Linked DNA regions of Homo sapiens. The protein of the gene in region 2 purifies or fractionates together with the protein of the main gene of each other region. This does not show direct contact. Each region holds a gene or a part of one and is shown on either strand. Other genes may lie near its edges.

Region 1 (3,500 bases), on a different chromosome or scaffold from region 2:
ACTTAGAAAACGAGCAAGTCGGAATCCTGTGGAATCTGCCATGGAATTAAAAGAGAAAAGGTCTCGAACTCAGGAAGCAAAAGACATTAGAAGAGCCCAGAAGGAGGCCGCTGGCTTTCTTGACAGGAGCACATCTTCTACCCCTGTAAAATTCATAAGCCGAGGCCGCAGGCCAGATGTGATTCTGGAAAAAGGCGAAGTGATTGACTTTTCCTCCTTGAGCTCCTCTGACCGCACCCCGCTGACAAGCCCATCTCCTTCTCCTTCTCTGGATTTCTCTGCCCCTGGTACACCTGCCTCTCATTCTGCCACACCTAGCTTGCTTTCAGAAGCAGATCTGATTCCAGATGTGATGCCCCCACAAGCCTTGTTTCATGGTAAGAGTTTGTTTGCTTTGCTCTTTTATTTTGGGTATGGGCCATGGTATAAATGTACAAGTTTTCACCCCGTGGGCTGTGTGCTCTGCATTTCTTCCTTCCTATGTCTTGATGACACTGTTTTGTACTCTGCACAGATGACGATGAGATGGAAGGCGATGGAGTCATAGACCCAGGGATGGAGTACGTCCCACCCCCTGCTGGGTCAGTAGCTTCTGGGCCAGTGGTTGGGGTCAGAAAGAAGGTCAGAGGCCCTGAACAGATAAAGCAGGAGGTAGAGAGTGAGGAGGAAAAACCCGACAGGATGGATATTGACAGTGAAGACACAGATTCAAACACATCTTTGCAAACAAGGGCTAGAGAAAAGAGGAAGCCTCAGCTGGAGAAGGACACAAAGCCGAAAGAGCCCAGGTATACTCCCGTGAGCATCTACGAGGAAAAGCTGCTGCTCAAGAGGCTGGAAGCTTGTCCCGGTGCTGTTGCCATGACTCCGGAAGCTCGGAGACTGAAACGCAAACTGATTGTCAGACAAGCGAAAAGGGATAGGGGATTACCACTTTTTGACTTGGATCAAGTTGTTAATGCTGCTCTTTTGTTAGTTGACGGGATTTATGGAGCCAAAGAAGGAGGAATTTCCAGACTTCCAGCTGGACAAGCCACGTACAGAACCACCTGTCAGGACTTCAGAATCCTTGACCGATACCAGGTGAATGCAAGCACTTGCTGTAAAGCCCTTGGGGGCAGGAGTGGAGGTGGGGCAGGCAGCACTAGGCATTGGACATGGTTATGCTGTGACCTTTTAAATCCTGAGTAATTTGGGAAGAGAAAAGTAAAGTGCAAGGGAAAAAAATACAAAAATCGCTGGGCTTTATTTTTCAGAATTGTTCATTGTAAGTACACCTGAATACATCTGAGTTTTTCTTTTCCTTTAGGCATTCAAACATAACCTATAAGTTTTCTTCATCTGTCTCTCTTGTCTCTCTCTCTCTGAGGATAGATATGCATGGTTTGTGTCGTAGCTTTGACAAATTTGTTGAGGCCATGACGGTGTCTCTGACACTGTGTTGCAGAGGATCTGAAGGTGTGTAGACATCTGCGAAGGACAACATGAAGAAATAGCAGCCAAGGGATCAGTGTGGTATCAGTGTTGCTCAAAGGATGGTCGGTGGAACCCAAATTTTGTGGATGCTTCTGGGAACAATTAATTCCACTTAGAACTACCTGTATATACTCTCCCACTGGGAGGAACAAGAGGCCTTATTCCCTTTATCTTTGCTAGCACTTGACACTAACCAGCCTTTAAGTTTTGCTAATTGGCTGGCTGTAAAGTGAAATCTTGTTTTTTATTTATATTTCTTTGGTTACAGGTGAGGTTAAATTTCCTGGTTGTTTCTTTGTGAATTGCCTGTTTGGAGTCTGCATGTTTTTCTCTCTTCTCTGGAAGCTAGTGGGATCTGCTCTTCATTGCTGGTGTTCTGGTATTATTCAGTGATGTGCCGTATGTAGGGCTTATGTCTTTCCTTGTGCTGGACATGTGGTGTGTGGGCCCTTTCAATTTGAAACTTTCTTTCCTGAGTATGGAAAAGTCTTGATTTCCTATCTTCTATTTTTTCTGTTCTCTCATTTTAGAACTCCCCATTATTTGGATATTGGACCCTGTAGATTAAAAGTTGGCAAACTTTATCTGTAAAGAAATAAGTATTTCTGCCAGATAGTAATTATTTTAGGCTTTGCCGGCCACAAAATCTCATTCGGAACTCTTCAACTCTGCTGTTGTGATTGGAGAGCCGTAGTGAATGAGTGTGGCTGTGTTCCAGTAAAACTTTATCTACTAAAATGGGCAGTGGACTGGATTTAGCCTGGGGGCTATAGTTTACCAAGATCCCTACTCCAGATAGATCCTCTTTTCTTTTTTTTCCTAATTCCCATCTTTCCTGGGAAGCACAGTATTAACTGGCCTGCCTACCAGGAGCCAAGTCGGGAGGGCCCAGGAGCCCATCGTTTAGGAGGTAAACTGACTCTCCCTGTCTTCAGTACAGTACTCCCACCCTTGGCTTCCTGTGTCCAGAATCTCCCTCTTGAGCCTCTCCAGTCTTCTGCCCGTGGAGGGAAAGATCATTTCCTAGATGTGGGCAGTATAATTACTATAGGGGTATAATTGGAGCCTTTAACCTCTTAAAGAGCCTCACAATCCATAGTCATACCCCCCAGGCTCTAAGCCTGATGCCTTAGGTGACTACACTTCCCTGAGGCTGTGTTTTGTAAATCACCCTGCTTAGCTTCACCACTGGCTTAGGTATTGGCTTTCTTTGGTCTGTTAAGTCATTTGCTGCTTGTTCATATGCTTTTGTTAGTCATCTATTCACTTGTTCTTGTTCTTTTTTTTTTTTTTTTTGAGACATGGTCTCTCTCTGTCACGCAGGTTGGAATGTAGTGGCACAACCACAGCTCATTGCAGCCCCGAACTCTCAGGCTCAAGCAATTCTCCCACCTCAGCTTCCCAAGTAGCTGGTACTATAGGCACACACTACCACACTCAGCTAATTTTTTTTTTAATTTTTATTTTTAGTAGAGACAGGGTCCTACTATCTTGCCCAGACTGATCTCAAACTCCTGGGCTCGAGTGATCGCCTCAGCCTCCCAAAGTGCTGGGATTACAGGCATGAGCCATTGCGCCTGGCCAATATTCACCTGTTCTTTGTTCTTATTCTTGTGGGCCTGTCTGTTTACTGCCTATACTTAATTTTTTAAATTGTAAGATGTGTCATACAGATAGAAGGCAGCATAGAAATATGGTATAATTTAGATATTAGTAAAATAAATGCCCATGTATTCATCTCCTGGATAAAGAGTGTTGTAAACACCTTAGAAGTCTCCTGTGTACTTTCTGTTCCCCTCAGAGGAAGCCACTTTGACTTACAGTGTTAATTATTCTTTTGCTTTTTAAATGTGTATGTCTCTAAATGATATACTTTTCGTTTAAAAAAATACTGAGTAGCAAGCATAAATCTAGCTGTGTAAGTAAATTGCCACTATTAGATGAAGTTTCCTGGAGAAGATAAGCTAAATAGTCATTCTGGGTCATTGTTGTGGACTGAATTGTGTCCCCCTTAAGCATATGTT
Region 2 (3,500 bases):
AGTCTTTTGACAGGAAGCTGATTTTTATTTTGCTTATTAAATATTTTACTAATTTATTAATTACAACAGATGTCTGATAAGAGATTATTGTTCTTAATATATAAAATGGTTGTGCAAAGTAATGAAAAACTCTAAAGATAAATGCTTACAGCCTGGACAATACAGTAAGACCTCATCTCTAAAGAAAAAGAAGAAAGAAAAATTATCTGGTCACGATGGCATGTGACTGTAGTCCTAGCTACCTGGGAGGATTTTTTGAGCCTAGGAGTTTGAAGCTGAAGTGAGGATCATGCCACTGCATTCTACTTTGGGTGACAGAGGAAAACCCTGTCTCTAAAAAAAAAAAAAAAAAAAAAAAAGCGGGCGCAGTGGCTCACACCTGTAATTCCAGCACTTTGGGAGGCCAAGATGGGTGGATCACGAGGTCAGGAGTTCAAGACCAGCCTGGCCAAGATGGTGAAACCTCATCTCTACTAAAAATACAAAAAAAACTAGCCAGGCATGGTGGCGGGTTCCTGTAATCCTTGCTACTTGGGAGGCTGAGGCAGAGAATTGCTTGAACCTGGGAGGTGGAGGTTGCAGTGGGAGGAGTTCACGCCACTGCACTCCAGCCTGGGCAACAGAGTGAGACTCCATCTCAAAAAAAAAAAAAAAAAAAAAAGGCCAGGTGCGGTGGCTCACGCCTGTAATCCCGGCACTTTGGGAGGCCGAGGCGGGCAGATCACGAGGTCAGGAGGTCGAGACCATCCTGGCTAACACGGCAAAACCCCATCTCTACTAAAAATACAAAAATTAGCCGGGTGCGGTGGTGGGCGCCTGTAGTCCCAGCTACTGAAGAGGCTGAGGTGGGAGAATGGCATGAACTTGGGAGGCGGAGCTTGCAGTGAGCTGAGGTTTTGCGCCACTGCACTCCAGCCTGGGCGACAGATGTGAGACTCTGTGTCAAAAAAAAAAAAAAATTGCTTAAAACATAATTGGGCAGAGGCTATGGGCAGATTTAAAAGAAGATAGAAAAGGCTAATAGGGCCGGGCAAAGTGGCTCTCACCTGTAATCTCAGCACTTTGGGAGGCTGAGGTGGGTGGATCACCTGAGGTCAGGGGTTCGAGACCAGCTTTGCCAATATGGTGAAACCCCATCTCTACTAAATATACAAAAATTAGCCAGGCGTGGTGATGGGCACCCGTAATCCCAGCTACTCGGGAGGCTGAGGCAGGAGAATCGCTTGAACCCGGAAGGCGGAGGCGGTGAGCCGATATCGTGCCATTGCACTCCAGCCTGGGCGACAGAGTGAGACTCTGTCTCAAAAAAAAAAAAAAAAAAAAAAGGCTAATAGTTAAAAGTGTGTATCTTCACTATAAATACAGTTGGCCTTTGAACAATTCATGGGGTTAGGGTGCTGACCCCCTACACAGTTGAAAATTTGTATATAATTTTTGATTCTCCCAAAATTTAACTGCTAATAGCCTTATGGCTTACTGTTGATCAGAAGCCTTATCAACAACATAGCTTCCTAACACATATTTTATATGTTTATATGTCTTATATATTGTGTTCTTAAAATAAACTAGGAAAAAGTGTTACTAAGAAAATCATAAGAGAAAATATATTTACTGTTTATTAAATGGAAGTGGATTATCATAGAGGTCCTTATTCTCATGGTCTTTTTGTTAAGTGGAGGGGGAAGTGTTATTGTCTGTGGGATGACAGAGGCAGAAGAAAATGCACGTGTAAGTAGACCCGTGCAGTTCAAGCTTGTGTTGTTAAAGGTCAACTGTAAATAGGAAATAAGGAAAATTAAAAATCTATAAAATTGATATTTGTACATATATTTGTTTTAAAATAAAATTTAAAATATACAATTTTTCAAAAATGAGTCAGTGAATTTCAAAAGTAGGTGAGAGTATGGTGAAATTGACCCTTCTAAATATTGCCAGTGGGAATATAAATAGATAAAAGCTTTTTGGAAAGCAATCTGACAGTAATTCATATTTCCTCATATGGTAATTTTTACCTCTGGGAATTTATTTTAAGGAGATAATCAAATGCAGACCAATATTTTTACATGAAATATTCTTCCAACTTGAGACAGCCTTAACATTTTTAGAGCTGGAGAATAGGTAGATAAATTAATGACACAACATAGTGTGGAATATTTTCAGGCATTAAATATATTTAACAGAATTTATGAATGACAGCAAAATGATAGTGACATTCCAGGATATGGAATTCTGTACGGTGTCTGAAATTGCATGAAACCAAATACTGGAAGGGAACAATACAGAAATGTGATAATTTGTGCATGGTGTGGTTGTGAATGCCCTTTTTTCACTGTTCTTTTATTTTTTGTTTTTTTAAGGCGAGCATGAATTACTTTTATAAGGGAAAAAACTCAGTTTACAGATACTAAGGACTATTTTAGATATTATAATACTGTAGTCAAATAGCTTATTAAAATATAAATATAAAGCAAAATTGAAAATGTATTTGAAAAGAGAAGGGAAGTATTTTTTTTCCTTTTATGCTCTTTCCTTTCCACTCCATAGTTGCCTAAGTCACTTACCCTTCCTTAAGTCCTTATCCCAGAGAAAGATGCGACTGCCATTGGTGACCTGTTAACTCTTTACTGTGGTCTAATGGAGACAGCACTCGACTGAAAGTGAAGGACCCAGACTCTAGTTGTAGGTTAACCATTCCCTTCTTTTTACCTCTTTTGCCCCATCTGAAAGGAAAGCGGGTGGAGGATGATGGGGGGAGTCCTTTTTTAGGATATTGTGGTATTAAATACATAAGAGACTTGTGAAAGTCCTTTGAATTCCAATAAAAAAAAGTTCTTGGCCAGGCGTGGTGGCTCACGCCTGTAATCCCAACACTTTGGGAGGCTGAGGCGGGCTGATCACCTGAGGTCAGGAGTTAGAGACCAGCCTGGCCAACATGGCGAAACCCTGTCTCTACTAGAAGTATAAAAATCAGCCGGGTGTGATGGCAGGTGCCTGTAATCCCAGCTACTTTGGAGTCTGCGGCAGGAGAATCTCTTGAACCCAGGAGGCAGAGGTTGCAGTGAGCCGAGATCACGCCACTGCATTCTAGCCTGGGTGACAGAGCGAGACTTCGTGTAAAAAAAATTTCTGGTTGAAACATTTAATGGATAATATTTTAAATATTAAGAGTGGGCTTCTTAAGCACATTAGATATTGCTTAGATTTTCTTAAGCGCATAGTGCAAATCTGATGATTCCCATTAGATTCATATGTTTATTCATTTGATCATTCAATAAATATTTGTTTGCCTTGTACTATCTTCTGTTTCTTTAGAGTAGTGGTTTTCAACTGGGGGCCATTTTGTTTTCCAGTTGGCAATGTGTGGAGAAATTTTTGGTTGTTACAACTCAGATGGAGGTGCTACTGACAGCTAGTGGATAGAGGCCAGGAATGCTGCTATACATCCTTCTTCCAACAAAGATGTACCTGGCCTACAGTGTTGGTAGTGCCACAGTTGTCAC

Evidence for each region.
Region 1: the proteins of KANSL2 (region 2) and KAT14 purify together in Homo sapiens (affinity purification with mass spectrometry, with the first as the bait; one large-scale study listed by BioGRID). This does not show direct contact.

What each region holds. Positions count from the first base shown.
Region 1 is NC_000020.11:18,161,863-18,165,362, forward strand, and holds part of KAT14 (cysteine-rich protein 2-binding protein), read left to right. Parts: coding exon 1-377; intron 378-514; coding exon 515-1,083; intron 1,084-3,500. UniProt on the Homo sapiens protein: Component of the ATAC complex, a complex with histone acetyltransferase activity on histones H3 and H4. May function as a scaffold for the ATAC complex to promote ATAC complex stability. Has also weak histone acetyltransferase activity toward histone H4.
Region 2 is NC_000012.12:48,661,739-48,665,238, reverse strand, and holds part of KANSL2 (KAT8 regulatory NSL complex subunit 2), read left to right. Parts: intron 1-3,500. UniProt on the Homo sapiens protein: Non-catalytic component of the NSL histone acetyltransferase complex, a multiprotein complex that mediates histone H4 acetylation at 'Lys-5'- and 'Lys-8' (H4K5ac and H4K8ac) at transcription start sites and promotes transcription initiation.